3 separate regions of the Homo sapiens genome follow, and regions 1 and 3 are each reported to be linked to region 2. The links are microRNA targets in miRTarBase. Many come from high-throughput screens and were not tested one by one. Region 2 holds a microRNA gene; each other region holds the end of a gene's coding sequence.

Region 1 (7,289 bases), not on the chromosome of region 2:
CTCCTGACCTCTGACCTCAAGTGATCCACCCAACTCGGCCTCCCAAAGTGCTGGGATTACAGGCATGAGCCACCATGCCCAGCCAAATTATGTGTTTTATTTATAAAATAATTTAAGCAAGTGTTTCACCTGGTTGTTCCATTAGTAAATGAAAGATTTTATTTCACTGAGTCTGGGACTTCCCAAATAGCTTAATATTATATTAGTCTTGATGGTTCTTTATTAGAACCAGAATGGTTCAAGAAAGCCTGAAGGCAGGTTCTTTTTTTTTTTTTTTTTTTTTTTTTTGTGAGACAGTCTCTGTTGCCCAGGCTGGAGTGCAGTGGGGCAATCTTGGCTCACTGCAGCCTCCACCTCCCAGGTTCACATGACTCTTAAGCCTCAACCTCTGGAGTAGCTGGAGTTACAGATGTGCACCACCACACCCAGCTAATGTTTGTTTTTTGTTTTTTTTGTTTTTTTTTAGTAGAGACAGGGTTTCGCCATATTGGCCAGGCTGGCCTGGAACTCCTGACCTTAAGTGTTTCGCCTGCCTTGGCCTCCCAAAGTGTTGGGATTTCAAGAGTGAGCCACTGTGCCCAGTCTGAAGGGGGGCTTCTCGGCTGTTGACTTATGCTGGAACTCAGTACAGAGACTATTTCATCTAATTAATATTCCTGTTTAAATTCTTTTAGACCAACCTTATACGGACAGTATGGGGTTGCATCGACATCTTAAATCAGTAATTGCTAAGCTCTAATCTGAATTTTTTTTGTTTTTACTTATAGCAAAAATATTTTGATTCTGGGGATTACAACATGGCTAAAGCAAAAATGAAGAACAAGCAACTTCCTACTGCAGCTCCGGATAAGACGGAGGTCACTGGTGACCACATTCCCACTCCGCAAGACCTTCCTCAACGGAAGCCGTCCCTTGTTGCTAGCAAGCTGGCTGGCTGATTAAGAGGCTGAACTGCATGAATCTGCTAAATCTCATTATTTCTCCTTAATATGTTACTTATCTACTTTTTATTTCCTTTCATTCACTAGTCATTTGAGACTGACAGCTTTGCAGGTAGCAGTAGTGTGTGCTGCTATTGTGGAATATACGTGTGTAGAGTTTTTGATTAGTTTAACAGTGCACTGGTGAAGAGGACATGTTAGAGCAACATAAGTAAACTACTTGAAAATAGTTGTATATATTACCTAACTTCTAGTGTAGTACTGGTTCTAACAAGTAACAAGCAAGTTTTAAAATTTTAATGTTTTGGCTTTCATTACTTCATCTTAATTATAGCTTTGTATGTTACTCTTATTTAATATAATCTCTATTGTATTGATTTCTTCTGTATTTACCTTTTGGATTTTGTAAAACAGAAGTTTAAGACCACAAGTTAGAAGAAAGGTCACATATTTCAAACACAACTAGATGGGGCTCTGAAAGATTTGTATCTCTGTGCTTGAACTTGAATGGCCTTAAACCTGTTTCAGCTTTAACAGTAGAATTTTACTTGGGCAATATTTGCCCATTCTGGTGTAACTTATGTGACTCTAGTGCTTAACAGCTGCCGTTGAAGCTAATATTCAGTTCTGTAGAGTTAGAATACCTTTTGTTGTTGAAGATGTGAATGAAGTATGCATGTGCATTAACTGTTGAATTCACTTTTGTGCCATTTTTGTAAATACAGTAGTTTTGCACAACCTCTCACAAATGTCTGTATTAATTTCACATACTTAAAAAGTAGATAATGTGCCAACCAGAAGCACAAGAGTTCCTACACAAAACTCTGTAAATCATTATAGCTTTTGTATAATAAGAGTAGTTTACAATCTCGGGCTTATAGAATACCAAACTGAAATCTTAGTTCAATCTGCCATAGACTTAAGCTTTTCATTTGTTACTAATATCCATGACATTCAGTGGCCTTGTGCAAATACGATATGTTGCTTAGGCATATCTTTTGTCCTATGCAGAACCTTTCATTTTGATTTTTATGAAAGTTGCAATTCATGTAATTTATATAAACTTTTTAAATGTAGAAACTTTTTACTTCCACACTCAGTTTTGGAGACCCTAGAATAAAAGGCTTCAATACTCTGCATTCCATGCCCTCTGCCACCTGCTTTTTTTTCCCCTTTGTTCTTTGACTCAAATGGTATTGAGCTGTTTGTTGTATATGGAAGCATAGGTGTCTATATCCTTACTCTTTTATATAACACAATAATGGCGTTTTCCTTCTAATTTCTCAGTTGTTAACTTCTTTCTCTTTTTTTTTTAGGATAGGGCCTTGCTCTGTCACCTGAGCTCTAGTGCAGTAGTGCAATCACAGCTCACTGCAACCTTACTCCTAGGCTCAAGTTAACTATTCTTGATCCTTTATTATTACTAATATTCTACAATTGTTTAAATAAAAGGAACTTTATAATGAAACGGTTCGGAATACTGGCTCAAGAACCTATGTCAAGATGAGCTGAATTTTGGTAAATTATTTTAGGAATTATGACAAGCTAATTGAATTAGGCTTGTGACAATTAGAGTAATTTACATGACAGGTAAAACTCCTATTAAAAATGTTTAGATGTTTGCTTCTGTAGATGTCACTTTAGTAAAATACCAATTTAGTTTTACTTGTGGCTTATCTAGTTAGAACTTAGCAGACTTTACTGGGACAAGTTTACTGCTCTTGTAGGAGCTCCTCTCACAAGTAGTTGTAATGCTGTAGCATGATACTCAGGATCAGTAGCTTGAGATGCTACTATTTTTCTCTTCATCTTTGACTTGCAGAGAGCCTCCCGTTTTTGGATCCAGGCATCTTTTCTGAATCCTGGTTCCATCAGTATACCTGCTCTCCTATGACCCCAAATCATAGTCAATGGTGCCTCAAACATAGCACCTTAAGTTAAAGGCTGCCTAGTGCTCTGAGGAAAGCTTGCTGATTATCTTCCTGATCTACTCACCCCAAAAGGCAGAAAAGCAACACAGTCACTGCTGTGGTCATTTGTAATGTAAAGATCAGTTATATATATATATTTGTAATGAGAGCAAGTATATACTCATTATAGAATCAATTTAAGAAGTTTAAAATAACCCAGAGTAGAATTTCTATATCTAGTCTTGGTTTTTTTCATGAATATTTGCAAGTAATTACCATTAAATTCACACATGAAAGATTAATCTGAAAGATCAGAGACCATGTTATTCCTGACCACGATAGAACTGCTCCTGTGGTTTGGGACAAGTAATAAAACAACTGCTTGAGTTTTGTTTGTAAAATACATAATTAATATTTGACCTACCTCAAAATGTATTGAGGATCTGTGAAATGCTAAGTGCCCAAAATAAAATATTGCTGATTGTCTTTTTATTAAAAGTAAATTTCCTCATTAAGCCAACCTGCCTTCTGTAAGTCACAGTGCTTAAATCTCAGGATTTTTCATTAGGAGAGACCTGTCGTTAAGGATTTGTAGGTATAATTGCTTAGCCTCCATTATTGGTGCTTGGGATAGAGAGGTTTTAGATTTTTGTTTTTTTTTTGTTCTGCCTCAAAGCTCAGTTTATTGAAGACATTTGTAAGCTATTGGATCATCACTTGAATCAAGATTTTGACTAGTGAGCTTAATTGTCCATTTCTTACAATTTCAAAGTTACAGTCTCAGAAATGGTTAATTTTAATAACTGTCCTATCATAAATTAATGTTGGAATAAATTGAAGTTGTTGATAAATACTTCATGAAAACTAAAGTCTGAAATAAATTACTTGTTTTATGTCCAATAGCTACTACATTTGATAGAACAGTTTTGAGGAACATTTCATTCTTGAACGCAGCATCTGACATGGTTCTCAGCAAGTTGGAATAGTAAGGATTATTGGCTTGTTTCGATGAGTGGAAGCGGCATGTTTGTAGCATACAAGTTATTCAATAATCTTGTGCTGATGACCTAAAAATATGTCTTAACTATTCATCAAGGAAAGCCTGGTGAAGCCTTTACTTGTTACTACTTCAACAGTTGGAATTAGTTGCTCTTTTTACTTGATGAAACAAAACTATACCTCTGAATATTTATGGATACTTTTTACTAAATCAGGCTTGTGTTCTTAATCCAAATTAGTAAAGTTTTATGGAAGCTGAAATGTAATACAGTAGTCTCCCCTTATCTGTAAGAGATACATTCCAAGACCCCTAGTGGATGCCTGAAACCTCAGATAGTACTGAACCCTTTATCAACTATGTTTTTTCAGTCTGACAACCAAGGCGGCTACTAAGTGACTAAGGGGCAGGTAGTATACAGTGTGGATAAGCAGGACAAAGGGGTGATTCACATCCCAGGCAGGACAGAGCAGGAGATCATGAGATTTCATCACTCAGGATGGCTTGTGATTTATTTTATTTTATTCTTTTTTTTTTTTGAGATGGAGTCTCACTCTTGCCCAGGCTGGAGTGCAGTGGTGCGATCTTGGCTCACTGCAACCTCTGCCTCCTGGGTTCAAGCAGTTCTCCTGCCTCAGCCTCCCAAGTAGCTGGGATTACAGGCGTCCGCCACCATGCCCAGCCAATTTTTGTACTTTTAGTAGAGATGGGGTTTCACCATGTTGGCCAGGCTGGTCTCGAACTCCTGACCTCAGGTGATCCACTCGCCTCGGCCTCCCAAAGTGCTGGGATTATAGGCATGTGCCACCATGCCCGGCCGGCTTATGATTTAAAACATGAATTGTTTATTTCTGGAATTTTCCACATAATATTTTTGGACCAAGGTTGCCTCAGGTAACAAACTACAGAAAGTGAAATTGCAGATAAAGGGGATTACTGCTCCTCTGCTCTAAAATTGGTGTTTGGGTGATCAGAAGCAGGTAGCCAATGGGAAGAGCACTTCTGAGTGATAACTAAAGCAGTTTGGTGGCCTTTTCACATTCTCCAATGTTCAAACATATTTTCCACTTTCCATTTTCTCTTTCACCTCATTTTGCCTCTCTATCCCCCATCCCTGCTTATTTCTTAAGCCCATTGATGGCACTCATTAAATTGTATTTAGGGCTAATGAGTCATTGTTCCTTAATATCGTTTTCAATATGCCACAATTTAGGACACATTTAAAATTTTCTAAAACAATATCCTAATCAATATTGACTAATTTGAGCCACATTCCCAACTCTAACTCAGCACACACTGCCAGTCTTCCCCAATATCTGTCTCCTCTCAATTCCCCACCACACCTTATAAAATTGTAATCAAAGATATCTCACTCTGTCATTGTTAATCTAAGAATAAAAACACTGACTTTAATACGGTTTTACTAAGTTTCAACCTTCTAATTAGGTAGGCCTCTAGGTATTCTGCAGATCACTGCTGGTCTTGATAGCCATTAATATATGTTTGTATTATGTTATTTTTCAACTAAATCGCAGTTGGAAAAAAACATATTTAATATTATGCCCTTGGATCTGTTACTGCATCACTAGCACTTGTGATGCAATAGAACACTTCGCCTGTACTGAAAGGGCCAAGAGTAAATGCCTTGTTTTGTTTTTTTGTTTTGTTTTGTTTTGCTTTTTGTTAAAACATGTCTATAGAGTTGGCAGTTAATGCTGAATTTGTCAAATACCCCTTCCAAAATTATACTTGTATTTAAAAAATAAATGGATCTACCTAATTTCTATTGATTTAATTTGCAGTTTTGTCTTATTAAAGTGGTATGTTTTTCAGTGTATTTTTTCTGAAGTTGATCTCTTTACATTTCAGCTATTACTGTATGCAGGAAGAAACTGACTTGTAATCTTTGATTTTTTTTTTTTTTTTGCATTTGTAAAGGCTTTGTACTTAAGGTAGGATTAAATGTTTGCAGATTGTGAGTCTTTTTCATCTTATTTGTGAAACATTACAGAGGAGGGGCTTCAACATGGCTGACTAGAGACATCTGGTACTCAGCTTCTCTACAAAGAGCCACAATAGTGAGGAGATAACACCTCAACTAGATCATTCAAGAGAGAACTCAGGAATTAAACAGAAAAAGGACAGGAAACAGTTAAGGTAGGAGAGGGAAGCAAGGCAGCCTACTTGGCCAGGATCTTCTGGGGGCCTGGAAAGATTAAATGAGTGATTGCCAGAAGTCCACATTCTCACCACAGACTCCTGCATCCCAGCCACAGGACAGCCTTTAGACCCTCGCAGACCCCAAGACTAACATAGGGAGCTGCCTGGAGACCACAAAAGATACTGCTCCAGAGACGGAGCTTATGCCGTCCCCCCACCCAAAGCCCTAAGCAGCTGCAGCAAGGCACCATATTGAGAGCTTAGCCCTGCAAACTGCATCCTGCCCAGAGGCCCTACAGCCCTTGCATCTCCACATCTCTAGAACCTCATTGATGTTCACCACCAATAGCCACCATCACAGCTGGCTGCTACCTACAGGGCTGAAGTGCCCAGCCATTGGCAAAGACCTTGCTGCCCCAGTAGTAAAGCTGCCATGCATTTTCATGTGCCCCAAGGACAAACTCCCCTACCTGTGGTGGTCTGACTGCAGGCTGCTGTAACCAGGGCCAATGGACGAGTGAAGCACAGGCTCACAGCCTCCTGGGTGTGGCTGCTGCAACTGAAAACAACCTTGCCCTCCACAGTGTCAGAGCTGCAGTGTAGCCACTGCCCTGCCACCGCCACCACAAGCATCCTGCTATAAGCCTGAGGATCACCCTTCCCCTGCCTGCCACAGTCAGCACCTGCACACACCACTAGAAGGCTTGAGAACAGGTCCACTCAGTCTGGCTCCACATCCTGTGTCCAAGCATGCCATCCAGGGGCCTGGGGATTACCCAGCTCAGTCCACCATTGTTGACTTCTGAGGACTCCTGGGGGCCTGATGTCAGTCCTGTTGAACCTGCTGCTACCACCACAGTGGGCACCCACCTAATATGCCACCACTAGGCCTGGGGACTGGCCCAACCCAGCCCCTTGCAGCAACTGCCAACACCAGCTCGTGATATACAGAACAACCAGAAATAATAAAATCACAGAAATAAGCCCTCACATATCAATAATAATCTTGTAAATGGATTACAGCTTTCCAGTTAAAAGAGGTAAAGTGGCTGAATGGATTCAAAATCATGACCCAACTGTATGCTGCCTACAAGGAACTAATCTCACTTGTAACGACACATATAAGACTGAAAGTAAAGGGATGGGAAAAGATTTTTCCATGCAAACGGAGACCAAAAGCATGCAGGAATAGCTATACTTAGATTAAACAGATTTTAAGTCAAAAACGGTAAGGAGAGAAGCATATTATTTAATGATAAAAGGATCAATTTTATCAGGATA
Region 2 (7,289 bases):
GGCAGTGCCCACCTGCTTCCCTCAGCTCCTGAGGGGCTGGGCAGAGCCTGTTGCTCACGCCACCCCACTCAGTGCTGCTCCGGGTTGTGAAAGCTGCAGGTGGCTCACGTTAGCCCACATGGCAGCACCCTCCCAGAGCAGGTGCCAACCTGCCAGTGTAGACACACCGACTGATGCCGGGGGTGAGTGTCCTGTAGTGTAGAAACGCCCACTCATCCTGCTTGTCCCGCAGAGAGCATTTGTCAAGCTGGCCTTTCTCCAACTGGGTCACTGATGGAGTTCGGCAGAGACGGCTTGGGGGCCACGGGCTGGGCAGATGGGGAGAGCTCCTCACAAGGCTGGGCAGCCAGACCCCCATTGTCAGTCCCCTCCAAACCCTCGTGGGATGTAGGGCCCTACCACAGGGAGCCCCGGGACTGGGCCAGTGTCTCAGGAGGCTGTGAAGAGTCATAGGCTTGAGTCTGGGAGCTTTCTCGGGGGCCGTTTTGTGCCCCTTGGGGAGAGGCCAGAGGGGCCCTGGGTAAGGGGACTCCTCTAGAATCACCCAGAAGTGGCAGGAGGTGCAGGGCCACTGCTCGGGGCTCCCTGGGCTCTGAGCTGGGCAGTGACCTGGCCCCAAGGCCTCTGGCTCTCTGGCGTGCAGTGGGAACAGCCGGGACAGACAGGCTTGGAGCGTTCGTGTCCTGCGCCGCGTTGGTGTGTTTCGTCCCCACTGTGCCTGTAGGAGGGCACCGGGTCCCCGTCTATCCTACTTCATGGCTGAGGAAGCTAAGGCACAGAGTGGCCCCGTCCTGCGCCCAGGGCTCTGCGTTGGCACAGGGCAGAGCTGGGCTGTGAATCAGGGCCGCCTTGTCTCTTGCTGTGGTGTGAGGCTGTGGGAGACTCAGGAATGAGGCACAGCCAGGTGCCCAGTGCCCGTGGGACCCGCCTCCCCACAGTGGGGTGGCGCCGCTCACACCTGGTAATTTCACGCTGGGGGAGGCCTTGGTTCCTATAGCCCATCTCGAATCACCTGGATCCCAGGGCTATCTCTGGGGAACATCTCCTCTCCATCACGACTACTGTCTTTTTCACCAGCATTTTCTATCCTAAAATCAGACTCCTCAGCTGAGGGCCCTCCAGGACCGCCCTTCCCCAGCTGGAGGTAACCAGATTTCTCGTGTATGCTAGGAAGTTCCCCTTCTGGTCACACCTCAATATTTCCTGCTGCTGGTGGGAACTGCAGGTGCTTGTACTTGTCACCTTCTCCCCGTCCTCTCTCGTCAGTTCCCTTGGATGCTGGACACGGGAGCCACCTGGGCGAGGGGAGCCCATCCAAGTGGCTGTGCGTCGGGAAGAGTCTGCCCAGGACTGGGCTAGACCAGAACTTAGAATTAAGGAGTGGTGGCCAGGCTTGGTGGCTCACACCTGCAATCCCAGCACTTTGGGAGGCCGAGGCGGGTGGATAGCTTGAGCCTAGGAGTTTGAGAACAGCCAACATGGCGAAACTCTGTCTCTTAAAAAATAAATAAAAACATTAGCCAGGTGTGGTGGTTTGTGTCTGTGGTCCCAGCTACTTGGGAGGCTGAGGTGGGAGAATCGCTTGAACTGGGAAGATGGAGGTTGCAGCGAGCCAAGATCGCACCACTGCACTCCAGCCTGGGCAACACAGCAAGACTAGGTCTCAAAAAAAAAGAAAAAAAAAAAGAAAAGAAGAGAGGTGGGTTCTTCTTGCCCATGCAGTTGTGTTGGGGGAGGAGCTCCCAAGCTCCTGTTCTTGATCTCAAGCTCCCCTATGCCCACTTCCATCCCCACCCCCATGCCGCAGCCCCTCGGACTCCACACCCAGGCACTGAGACCCACAGATGCAGCGATGGCAAGGCCTGTCATCCCTTCTCTACCACCAAGAGCTGTGCAATCCCCAGAAGTCACTGTCCCTCCCTGAGCCTCAGTTTCCCCAACTGCAAAATGAAAATAACAAAACCTTTCTGATTCCCTTTCCAGGGTGGCTGCGGTGGTTGAGCCACACGCGGCCCATGTGGAAATGTCTGGGGGGTCCCTCAGATCTGGTGGCTGTGTTCTGGTCTGGGGCTCACCTTGGCTCCTGAGCACTTGGCTCCTGGCTGGCTGGGCGGGTGGTGGGATGGCGTGTCACCGCCCTGCACTGGAATGAATGGTCACCACCCTGCTGCCCAACCCCATACAGACACACTAATGGCTCCAGACTTGGGGCAAGTGCTGAAGGGGGCTCTAGGGTATTTCCTAGAGCCTGAGCCCTCCCCTCAGCTGCCATGTTCTGCTGAAGCAGAGTCCCTGGGAGGCGCCACTGGTCAGGCCTGGACACCTCCAGGTGACTAAGTGGGTAGGACCGGCAGGGCCAGCTGCGCCAGGACGTTCGGGGCTGGGCTGTGAGTGGGGGGAGCGAGGCTCAGGCCCTTGCTGCGTGAGGGGGTAGGGCGTCCCTCCCCCCGCGTGGGAAATGAGGAGGCAGGTACGGGGCTACCCCTGTGGGCTGCGGGGTGGGGGTTCAGGGTCTGAGAAGCAGAAACCTCCCTCCCTCCAGTTTCACTTTCTCTTTACCCCTCCCCTTCCCCCTCCCACGAAGTTCCCTTTGAAGTGAGAGGGGCTGGGGTGGGTGTGTCCAGCCCAGCCCCCACACCCACCGGAGAGCTAGCGCGGCCCTGGGCTCCTGTCGGGCGCTGGTCCTCACCTGTTCCGGCCACCCTGGGCCTCGACCCGGCCAAGGTGGAGCCCCGGGCCCTCCGTGCGCCCGAGCACCCCCGGCCCAGACGAGACGGTTCGGGCGTGGCCCGGCGGGGACCCAGAACCCGGGAGGCCAGGTGCGCCCAGGCCAGGCGCTGGAGGCTGGGGCGCCGGATGGGGCGGGGCGGCCGCTGAGTCAGGGCCACCCCCGCGCGGGCGCGCGGAGCAGGTCCCCGGGCCGTGGAGGATCAGTCGCGGGACCTATGGGCCCGGGAGCCGCCCCGCCCGGAAAAACCGGTCGGGCCAGCGCGGCGCGGGCACATTCCGGCGCCGGGAAGGGCGGCTGCGCCGCATAAAAGGCGCCGCCGCGCTGGCCACCGCCGCTCGGAGCTCAGCCGCCCTGCCACGCGGGGCCCGCGGGACGAGGGGACGCCGGGGCCAGCGAGGACGCGGCGGGGCTGGGCTTGGCGGCTGGGATCCCCCAGCGCCAGGCGAGGGCGTCTAAGGCGTCCGGTACGGCGTCGGGGCCGGGTGGCTGCAGCAGGGCAGGGGGTGCGCGACCAGCGGGGATCTGGGCGCAGGGGCCGGTCCCCGGGATCCGCAGGCGACGCGGGCGGTCCCAAGGGCGTCGGGGGCTCCTCTCTCCGCAGCTCGGCGAACCGACGGTGTTGGGGACTCGCGCGCTGGGTCCAGTGGTTCTTAACAGTTCAACAGTTCTGTAGCGCAATTGTGAAATGTTTAGGACCACTAGACCCGGCGGGCGCGGCGACAGCGACGGAGCGTCCCACGCGCGGCCTGGAGTCAGAGTCACAGTCAGGGGTGCGCCGGCGACCAATCCAGGGGAGCCCACGGACCGGCTCCGCGCTCCAGGTCGGCCGCCCCATGCGCCGCGCCCCGCAGTCCCCAGGGCCTGGCTGGCTCCACCTGCTGCCAGGGAAGACCCTCGGCCGGAGAGCCAAGTGCTGCTGGGAGGTGGCCGGGCGTGGCCGGGCTGTGCTGTGGGAACCGCTGGGTGGGGGCGCGCTGGGTTGCCCACGCTCCTGGCGCGCTGCCGGCCTGGAGACGCCGCCGCCGCCCTCTTGCACCCCGAGGGCCCGCACCTCGAAACTCCGTGGAATTCCCAGCGAGGAACTGGCGGTGGGCCCGTAGGGTTGAGGAGCGCTCCTTGCCCTGGGCTTCCTGGGAGCTGCCCATCAGGCTGCCGGCAGCCGCACCCTGCTGGGCGGCCGATGGTTCCCGCTGCCGGCTCCCCGGAGCGTCTCCACTCACTGAGGCCTTAGGGAGCGCTGCGCGGCTCCTACGAGTGCGCGCTAAACTCGTGAAGGACCTCGAGGCACAGGAACTGGGGGTGGGGAGGAAGTTTGCAGACTACACCCAGGTAGAGGAGAAGCGGCGCCCATGATGACAGGTGCCTTCGCCGGAGCCTCCCTGGAACCTCGTGGTAGCTAGCGCCCACAGGAGAGGTGTGCGCGTCAATCTGCGTGTGAAGCCCCGGGCGGCCCTGGGAGGGACTCAGCAAAGGGTCGAATCTGTCCCCACCTCCAGCCAGGGGCCGGGGTCTTCTGCCTGGTGCTGCCTGGCCTGCTGTGTCCTCTGGGGTGGAGGGTCCCCCTCCAGTCCCCACCTCCTCACCCAGTGTTTAGAGAGCTGCGGGGAGTCCTGGGAGATGGGTCAGACAGGCCTGGGTTTGAGGCCTGCTAGGGTGGCCTTGGGCCAGTCACCTGCCCTCTCTGAGCCCGACCTGCACACATAGGGGGTTGATGTGAGGAGACAGGAGGTGACTGTGGAGGGCTGTTCCAGAAGAGGGCCAGCAGCAGGACAGCAAGGTCCCCTGGCCACCCAGGTGGGGGGAGTGGAGTTCCCGGGAGAGCATCCACCACTGGCCAGTGCCTCCTCTGTTGCTCAGCAAATGCCATTGTGGCCACCTCTCAGGATCTGGCTTCAGAGCTTGGGGCCGTGGGAGCGCCCAGTGGGTCTGTGGCATCGGAGGGGTTGGAGTGTCTTCCCCAGCTGCTGCCTGCTGACCACCGCAGCCCCCTGTAGCCATTTCATTTTACAAGCACGTTCCCCCGTGCCCTCTGCATGGGCCCTCAGCCCTCAGCAGCCCCGTGAGAGGGGCTGAGGCTCAGGTGGGAGATGGCGGCTGTGTCCCTGTTCTGCGGCTTGGAGGCATTCTGTCCGGTGTGCGTCTGTACAATTTAGACTGATGACAATAAACATGTTCCAAAGCATCGCTGTGTCCCTGGGGTGCTTGTCCTTTTCCCCCAGGCCTCAGCGTGGTTTCTCCCTTGAAAGCAAGCCAGCCTTTTCCTTCTAATCTCAGAGAAGCAGAAATGAGGATGGTTGGTGGAGGGGCAGTGGCCTGGTCCTTACCCAAGACCCTCCCTCAACTCTGCCTCTGGCACTTTGGTCTCCAGGGAAGCCCCCAGCCTCTGCCACCAGCTTTCTCGTTGCAGTGACCTCCCCTGGGCCACTGGGCCAGACCCCCTCCCTCGGGTTTGAGCTGCACTGCCTCAAGGAGCCAGGCTGGGGAAAGGGCTTGGCTCCCAGGGGCCCCACTTTCAGGGGCTCCAGCCTGCTCCCACTCCCCCCACTCACCACAACACTGCTCCCTTGGCTGGCTCCCACTCATTCCCGCTGGAGCCTGTAGGCTGGCCCTGGGGACCTGGCCAGGAGAATGGGCAAGGTGGGAGGGTTGAGGGATTGAAGAGACAGAGGCACCTTCCTCCACCCTCCCTGCCTCTGGCACAGGGGACCGAGAGTCTGTCGTGCATTCAAACCCCAGCTCTATGCCTACAAGCAAGTGACCTTGGCAAGTCCCTTATCCCCTCGGAGGACCTGTTTCTTCCTTCTGTAGGATGACGTGGAGCTCGCTGGAGGTTCCCCTGACATGATGCAGCACACTTCCTGAGTGCTCAGCAGGGCAGAGCTCAAGCTGTCACTGGAGCTGATGTGGTGGGAGGGCCAGTGGGGGATCCTTGAAGAGGCCGAATTTCAGCCAGGGCCTCGGAGGACCAATGGAAGGCCTCAGGTGGCAATGAGGTGTGGTCTTACAACAGGCCCCTACTTGGTCCCTGGGGACACCAGGAGGACAGGCCCCTACTTTGCTGAGACTAGACCTGTGCTTCCTGGCACCCCAGCCCCTCCACTCCGGCCTCTCCAGCCTCTGCCCCTGACCCAGGTGGAGGATGGCTCCTCGGGGTCCATTCCTTCAGCCATGGAATTCCTGAAGGGAAGCTGGGCACGTGGGGCTCCTGGGCTGCTGGTGGAGACACATGCCACCTCTACACAGGGGAGTGTGAACAGAGGCAGATGCAACTTCTGGGTGGAACTGGGGCACTGTGGTGCTGAGACGTGCCGACTGTGCTGCTGGAGGGCCACGCCGGGGCAGGGCAAAGCATCCCTGCATGAGGCCGACCCACCTGTCCAGGTGTGCCTGCGTGTTTCCTGATTTGGCACCGAAACGTTCTTGGAATCTTCTGAGTCTGGGGCAAACTGGGACTGCTGATCACCCTACGTGGGACCAGCTCATGTACACGCTGCCCTACCCACTTGGACAGCTGAACAGCTTGTCTTTTCCACAAGAGAAAGGAACCTTCTGCCTTTTAAAGCCAGTGTTATTTTGGTCTCTGTTAAAGTAGCTAAACCAGTATGTGAAGGCAGGGGTTCTGACTCACTGCAGAGGCCCAGGCTCAGTGAGTAGGATGGGTGGCAGGGATCTGGGTCTTCACCAAGTTCCCAGGCGAGCCTGATAAATGCCCAAGGCTGACAGCAGCTGTCTTAGGCGAGAGACCTCAGGAAGAGAGACAGGCTGGGGGAAGGGGAGACAGGTCCTGAATCTGCAGCTATGGGTGGTGCCTGGCCTCTACTCCCTGGGAGCAGGAGCCTAGAGTAGAATTTGCATCTTAGCCTCTCTGTCCTTCCCCAGAGGAGTCCATAGCGCCCGCTGAACAGGTAACCTGCCAGGCCAGGGTCTGGGGGTGCCCACTCGAGGCTCATGGAATCTAATTGTATATGCAGGTCTCAGGCCATTTGTGCTGCTGTAACAAAACCTCTGAGATGGATAATTTATAAGGAACCACGAGAAATTTATTTCTTCGGATCTGGAGGCTGGAAGTCTAAGATCAAGGTGCTGGCAGGTTCAATAGCTTGTGAGGTCTCAGTCTCTGCTTCCAAGTTGGTGCCTTGCGTGGGTGCTCTGGAGGGGAGGGACACCATGTCCTCACACGACAGAAGGGATGAACAGCAGAAAGGATGGGAAGGGCAAACTCGCCCCCTCATGCCCTTTTATAAGGCACAAATCCTACCCATGAGGGTGGAGCACTCATGGCCTCCTCAGCTGCTGAAGGCATCAGCTCTTCATCCTGTTGCACTGGGGATGAAGTTTCAACATGAATTTTGGAGGGTCACAAGCACTCAAGCCATGGCAACATATTTGCAGTTGAGAATCATCAGAGGGAGGACAGATGATGGCTCCTTCCTGGGTGACTAGATAAGCCCCATGGGACAGCACATCTGTCACAGGGCTGTGGGGTCACTGTGACTGGCTTTCTGAGTATCTTTCCGTGGTTCTGAGGCTGCCCGGGGAGCAAAGTTGTGCTGGGAGG
Region 3 (7,000 bases), not on the chromosome of region 2:
CTGCAGGTAAGCTCCGCTCCTGCCCTGATTGGCAGCCGCGGCCCGACTGGGCGGCCCCAGCCCTGGGCGGGGACCCGAGTGTGGCTTCCCGCGCCGCCGCCGCCGCGATCCGGAGAGCGGGTTTCCCAGCAGCTCCTGGGCCCTGAGCCGAGGAACAAGTTGTTTTAGTTTCCTCCTTGTTTGGTGTCAGGAGGTTGAATACCGGGAACTGTAGAAGACCTGGTTCCGTGGCTTCTAGCCAAGCAGTTGTCACGGGATACCTGCGTGCTGGATGCAGCTGGCTTAGCAGAGAATGATAGGTGGCAGCTCCACAGTTATGTGAAAGGCTTTCTCGTGGAGGAGATTAGATTTCTAGGGGGTCCTAGGGAGGTGGAAGCTACCTAGACAGTTCACCTTCCTGTGCGCGAGAACTTTCTAGTAAACTCTCGAAGATGAGAGGAGGTAATTTACCTTTCTCTGGAGGCGGTTAAGCTTGGCTAGAGGATGACTTGGGAGAGATGTAGACAGGGTTCAACACCTTGAGTGAGGAGGATTCATCTTTAAATCTAGAGTGGATGGAGGGAACTCGCGTTTCCACTCAGGGCCACTGATGGTTGGGTAGAAAGCCTTTATCCGTTCATCTTTAAGAATTGAGATGAGAAAGCTTTTTATTCTCTAAAGCAGCCTACAGTGTCCAAAACACGCAGAGCCCAGAATAAAGCTTTTTTTAAAAGGGTGTGGTAAAAATCCCTGTTTTTTTTTTCTTTAAAAATAATTTATTTGATCCTGATTACAAAATACAGGTGAGGAGCACAGGCAATTCCTGTAACCCCTTGGTCGCACATCTTCCCAGTCTATGGTTCTATAAATACCCTTTGTACAACAGCAAGCTCATGTTGTCCCCAAGCGCTTGCACATTCTAACAGCTGCAGAGCTATATTACCAGGTGGAAAGTTAAACAGACGCCCCACTCACAAGGTAGGGCCCCTCCAATTAGTCTTCCGACTCCTTTTTGCTAATAGTAACTGGTTGCTCTTCCTATTGGTCATAGATAAATTACACCTGCACAATTCCCTGAGTGCTTTCAAGTAACCTCAGAAAGCAGTGACTAAGACCCTTTCCTTGCTCCCAGCTTCCTATGTCCCAGGCTGCCTGTGGCACCCGGACTGCTGCTGCCCCTGGGTCCCGCACATTCCAGGGCGACGATGGAGGAAGGGCAGGCCAGGCCAAGCATGAGGAATTAACAGTCTTTATTGGGCTCAGACCAGGAGCCCGTGGGTCTTGAGGACCTCTGTGTATTTGTCAGTTTTCTTCTCCACGTTCTTCTCGGCCCGTTTCCGTAGCCTCATGAGCTGTTTCTTCTTCCTGTAGTGGAACTTGGCCTTCTCCTTCCACTTCTCCTCCAGGGTGGTTATCACTGCCTGGTACTTCCAGCCACCATCGTGAGCCAGGCGCTCCAGATAGGCAAACTTTCTTGTAAGCTTCAGACGCACGACCTTGAGGGCAGCAGGAACCACCATCCGCTTTTTCTTGTCGTAGGGCAGTAGGATGCCGTCAAACACCTTGAGGTGGTCCAGGGCGGCCTGGCCTCACTTGGTCTCTTGGGGCAGCAAGCCTCGTACTTGTGCCACAAGATGCGGCTGGGGGCCGGGAAGTGGTAGGGACCTCGGGAAGGGTTGGTGTTCATCCGCTTGCGGGGGAAAGCCAGGTACTTCAACTTGTTTCTGTAGAAATTGCCAGAAATGTTGATGCCCTCCCAGCGTACGACAACCACCTTCCAGCCCAGCAGTACCTAGTTAGCCACGATGGCCGCCAGGGGGCCCAGGAGATGGCCTCCACCATCAAGCACCAGGACCTGCACCCCCGCCATCTTCGGCAGCCGCCTGGGAAAAGAAAATCCCTTGTTTAATTCGCATGTAGACTAAGCTAATGCAGCAGACTCCAAAAGACAGGGCCCACACGGTGGAAGCCTACTTCCCCCTCCCCAAATAAAGGCTCAGACAGGGACAGGAAGAGGTGGCCTGAGCCAGTGAGCCAAGAGGTCATCTCGGGACTGAAATTCCCTCTGTCTGGTTGCTGCGCCATCCTCTGGAGTCTTGCCAGCTCCATGGTCAGTACACAGGCACCAGGACCGTGTGCACGTCCCAGCTTACAGGAGGGAGGAAGAGAATGCTGCTTCTTAAGCCCATGACCCTGACGTTTCCCACCATTTCCACTTGCATCCTAGAGGCTGAAACTTAACCATGTAGTGAACCTCCCTTCAAGGCAGGCTGAGAAATTTAATCCCCAGCTGGTCAATCGTGGGCCTGGCTACAAAGAAGAGAGTGGTACCCAGCAACAAGAGGCAGTTCTGCGCAGTCCCCACCCCGCCCCCACCCCCCCCCCACCCCCCCACCCCCCCACCCCCCGGCTTCTCCGGCTTGCCCTTCCCCACCCCCGCTAGAGAAGGTTCACACCCGCGTGGCAGTGTTCAGCAGTCTGAACATAGTAGGCATTCAGTAAGTACTCATTGAAAGGAATTTTGATATATTTTGTACTTTACTAAAGAGGGAAGCAGCAGCAGCTTGCTTCGAAAATATGTGCACAAGGTCCTGGTACCTGAATACTGACCATTGACTCCAGAGGATGGTGCAGCAACCAGGAGGGACAACAGGCGCCACACTGTCTGTCTACTCCGTCTTTCCAGCAGCCCTTTTCTCTAAAACTGCCCTGTGACCACACAGACCCTCACCTGGGCCTGCACCTTGTTCCAAGCTGACCCTGCCTCTCTACTTGAAACTCTCATTCCCACTATTAGGGGCAAAAATCTTGATGGAACAAATTTACAAAAAGGTGCCTATGCTTAATGACTCATTATTATAGCTTCCATGGGGAGCATTTCCATTTCTTAAGCCAAATAAGTTAATCTCAAATGATGAACTATAACAGGCAGTGAAAGACAAATTTTTGTTTTTTAGCAAATCTAAAACCATCTCTATTTCAGACAAAGAAAGTTAATTAAAACATAATAGAAGATAGTGTGAAAAACTAACAAAGGACTTGCTCACTTTTTTCAAAGTTCGTTTAATTTAACAAAAACAAAATCATGTCATACATCGAGGATTTCCTCTGCCTCATCCTCTTCCCCATCCTCAGCCTCATCTTCTTCCCGTCCTCAGTCTCTTCTTTGGCCTCTAAAGGAAGCTCAGGTATTACCACCTTCCTTCCCACCCTGGAAATTTTATCTTGATCATCTCTCATTTCTCTGTGTCACCTCCAACTTTGTGTATCGTTTCTCCTATTGTTATGTGCTGGTTAATTTGCTTCGGGTTGACATCTTGAGCTGTTCTGGGATCCAGGTCTTTCTTGACTGGTCTTATATCATCTAAGTGGAGTGCTACCAACATGTGCTTATTAGCTGTCTTTCACTGATTACTTGACTGAGTTTCATCCTCACTGACATTTATACCAGGACCATGTAATTTTGTTGCTTAGTTTTCTTTGCTCTCACTGTTACTTTTCTTTTCAACCTTCTCTCTTTTTTTCTTTTCTGTTTTGTGGCTTCTTACTTCCTTGACTGATGGAAAACATGTTTTCAAAGCAAGCTGCTGCTGCTTCCCTCTTTAGTAAAGTACAAAATATATAAAAGTTCCTTTCAATGAGTACTTCCTGAATGCCTACTATATTCAGGCTGCTGGACGTCTAATTCTCAGAGCTTGTGTTTAAATACATAACTGTCCCCCTTGTGGCCTTCCTCAGTGGATGAGATAGTAACTGTGCCATGTTGGGGTCACTGGCACAGTCCTGTCTTTTGAGAACTGACTGTCCTCAAGGTGGATGATCCTGAAGTTTCTGTCTGGGGAAGAGGAGCACCAGTGTTCCATGTGGGCTGCCATCTTATCCCCTTCACCATCCATCCCCCTTCCTGGAATGCACTGTCACGACGCCACATCACAGCATCTCTGAGCCCTTACAGAGGTGCTGAGGGTGACTCACTCTACTTCTGAATAACTCCCTAAGAAGATGCATATTTATGCCATAAGTCACAGCATCTTATCCCCGAGGGGATACTCCTCTGGCAGCTGGGTCTCTTTCAGGCCCATGCTTAGCCACATGATTTTACTCTGAGCCCCATTTAAGGCATTTCCTGCCCACATTAGGTTTTCCAGTTATCTCAGGTGAGACACTACCCTGAAAATCCCCAGGGCTACTCCACTTGATGGAGCTGAGCCATCTCTGTGTCTTTGCCTTCTGGAACTCAGCAGCCATGTCCATGCCCCATTGCCCACTATGAAAATCCACCTGGGGAGATATTAAAATCACCCTACCCAGATCCAGTGATGCTTCTTTCATTGTCCCCAGGTGTCTGAATCTCCCTGGCTCCATGCCCCATCTCTGAAGACCAGCTGTGAATACGTGAGCCTCTACCACCAGCCTGCCGCCATGATGGAGGACAGTGATTCAGATGACTACATCAATGTTCCTGCCTGACAACTCCCCAGCTATCCCCCAACCCCAGGCTCGGACTGTGGTGCCAAGGAGTCTCATCTATCTGCTGATGTCCAATACCTGCTTCATGTGTTCTCAGAGCCCTCATCACTTCCCATGCCCCATCTCGACTCCCATCCCCATCTATCTGTGCCCTGAGCATGGCTCTGCCCCCAGGTCGTCTTGCACACCTTGGCAGCCCCCTGTAGTTGACAGGTAAGCTGTAGGCATGTAGAGCAATTGTCCCAATGCCACTTGCTTCCTTTCCAAGCCGTCGAACAGACTGTGGGATTTGCAGAGTGTTTCTTCCATGTCTTTGACCACAGGGTTGTTGCTGCCCAGGCTCTAGATCACATGGCATCAGGCTGGGGCAGAGGCATAGCTATTGTCTCGGGCATCCTTCCCAGGGTTGGGTCTTACACAAATAGAAGGCTCTTGCTCTGAGTTATGTGACATGCCTCAGCCCCATGGACTAAGCAGGGGTCTGGTATAAAAACACTCCTGGAAACGCCTTTGCCCTGATCCAAATGTTAGCACTTGCTAGTGAACGTCTACTTATCTCAAGTTCTATGCTAAAGGCAATTTATCTTGATGTGATGATAAACCAAACTTATTAGCAAGATATGCATATATATCCATAAATTCTCTTTACTCTGTCTCCATCACTTGATGCACATAAGTGCCCTGACCTCAGCATCTCCCCTCTAAAAAAAAAAAAAAAAAAGTATCTCTTTATCTTTCTTCCATAGCCTGACACTGATATTTGTGCACTTACCTTAACTTTGGTCTATTTTATTCATCCAAAACCATTACATTTCTTGGTTTTCACAAATGTTCCCCATTTCTTAGCCAGTTCCAGACAATGTATAGCAAGCAGGGGAAGGAAAGCAGTCAGGAGTTCCTGGGTGGCCACGGCTCTGCAATAGCACTTATGTCATGGAAGTGATATCCCACCTCCTACATATACTCTTTGCCTAGGTTTTTGGAACAAGGTTATAGTCAGACACTGTATCTTTAGATTGATGTCGACCACAAAGTTCAGCCAGAGCTTGAGGCTAGATGCACAGCCTTGCTATTGGGAAGAAGGCCTTTTCTAGCTGTACAACACAGTCTCACTGGGCATTCATCCAGAAATAGAGAAGAAAGTCTGCCAGACTTGAGTTATGTTGTCTTTTATTAGCAGGGAATGTCATCACAGATTGGATAGTACATCCAGGTGCAATGTCACCATCAGCAAGGTCAGCTTGACACTCAAGTGGAAGATTAGGGAAGAATGACTAGGATAAAAAAAAAAGGAGGGCACCAAGGGAAAGGGATGATGGGGTGAGCTGGCGAGTGTGGGTGGGAAATGAAATGTTTATTGAGGATCTGCTTTGTGCTGGGCACTTTAATCCACATTTTATCGTTTACTTTTCAAACAGATGCACCTTACCCCCACCCCAATGCTCTGTCCCTGCAGATATCAGAAGACAGTGTGATTTTCATGCTCTGAAGTTCAGTTTTACATCCAAGCATCCCTCTCTGTTTTTTAACAATCCAAAGACAGGCCAAAAAAAGCACCACAGTTTATTAAGTACTTACTAAGCACCCATCCACTGCCCCACACTGTGGCAAGGATTGTGAGGGGTAAAGAAGCATGGGGCACAATATTCTGCTGCCTTCATGTAACTTACAGTCTCACAAATAAATAGAACTTCAGTTGAAATACTGACATTAATTAAATAGAGTTGTAATAAATACAAGAATCTTCTCTGTAGACTCTTCACAGCATCCAGAGGCACCTTCCCTGACTGTCACTGGCGCTGCTTAAAGAATGACTTCTTTGACAATAATCCTGGGCCAAGAATGGGACCCATGGCCAAGGGCGTGAAGTGTCCAGTGAACAGCATAGGAAGGGAGACTGTTTGAAATGACACAGGGAACAAACCAGTGCCAGGGGGAGGGAGGTCCTGGTCTAGACATTCAGAGCTTGTAGAATTTCTGCATCCAGGTCAGAAGAATGTCCACTTCCCCAAGGGCTTTGGTCAGAGCTGCTTCTACGTCCAACTAAAGGGAAAAGAGGGTTGAAGGTCAGCCATGTTAGCTATGAGAATAGTCTTTCTTCCAACCTGCCATGCCTAAAATAGACCTGACTCCAATCCAAGGGATGGGTCACCTTTGGGATGAGCCCACTGATGAACCCACCTGCCTGTCACTTTTCCTCCATCTACATGTGTTTATCTGCTTCAGGGGTGAGGACAAACAGGCTAGTGAATATCAGTGGACAAAGAACAAGGGAAAGACATATGGCACCCCTAACAACAGCAACCACAAACTGCAGTATGGGATGGATATGGCCCACCACCTGAATCCACTGCACAGGTGAAATGAGCCCAGGTGGCCCCTCTCCATCAGATGTTATTGCTCTTCACCATTTATTTAAAAGCTGATGCATCTCTTCCTCAAAAAAAAAAAAGTGATCGAAATCATTTATGTTTTTAGGGGGGCTGGGGATGAAATTTGGGTTTTCTTTGTTGTCATAATTTTGGAAAAGCAAAAATAATTTCCCATAATT

What was found. The annotated mature microRNA hsa-miR-203a-3p reads GUGAAAUGUUUAGGACCACUAG and lies in region 2 at 3,412-3,433, shown strand. An mRNA with a match to its seed (bases 2 to 7 or 8) in the 3' UTR can be bound and repressed. Matches are read on the target gene's strand: a 7mer-m8 pairs with bases 2 to 8, a 7mer-A1 pairs with bases 2 to 7 and ends in A, and an 8mer does both.
Region 1: the mRNA of ARPP19 is a reported target of hsa-miR-203a-3p. Seed matches in the 3' UTR shown: 7mer-A1 at 1,391-1,397, 7mer-A1 at 3,615-3,621, 7mer-m8 at 3,786-3,792 and 7mer-m8 at 5,710-5,716.
Region 3: the mRNA of IL24 is a reported target of hsa-miR-203a-3p. Seed matches in the 3' UTR shown: 8mer at 6,351-6,358, 7mer-A1 at 6,146-6,152 and 7mer-m8 at 5,796-5,802.

The regions. Positions count from the first base shown.
Region 1 is chr15:52,545,583-52,552,871 of GRCh38, reverse strand. It overlaps ARPP19 (cAMP regulated phosphoprotein 19), which reads left to right. Exons shown (of 3, transcript NM_006628.6): 3 at 768-5,827. The coding sequence ends at 938. Among named protein-coding and RNA genes, the nearest start is that of ARPP19, 20 kb to the left of the region's middle. RefSeq lists an enhancer at 6,415-6,916.
Region 2 is chr14:104,114,058-104,121,346 of GRCh38, forward strand. It overlaps MIR203A (microRNA 203a), which reads left to right and starts at 3,348; the gene lies at 3,348-3,457. ASPG (asparaginase) reads left to right here. Exons shown (of 16, transcript NM_001080464.3): 16 at 1-1,525. MIR203B (microRNA 203b) reads right to left here and starts at 3,446; the gene lies at 3,361-3,446.
Region 3 is chr1:206,902,468-206,909,467 of GRCh38, reverse strand. IL24 (interleukin 24) reads right to left here. Exons shown (of 7, transcript NM_006850.3): 7 at 5,329-6,492. The coding sequence ends at 6,409. FCMR (Fc mu receptor) reads left to right here. Exons shown (of 8, transcript NM_005449.5): 7 at 1-6; 8 at 4,321-6,151. The coding sequence ends at 4,449. It also overlaps the pseudogene RPL13AP8. Among named protein-coding and RNA genes, the nearest start is that of IL24, 8.5 kb to the right of the region's middle. RefSeq lists an enhancer at 3,551-4,750.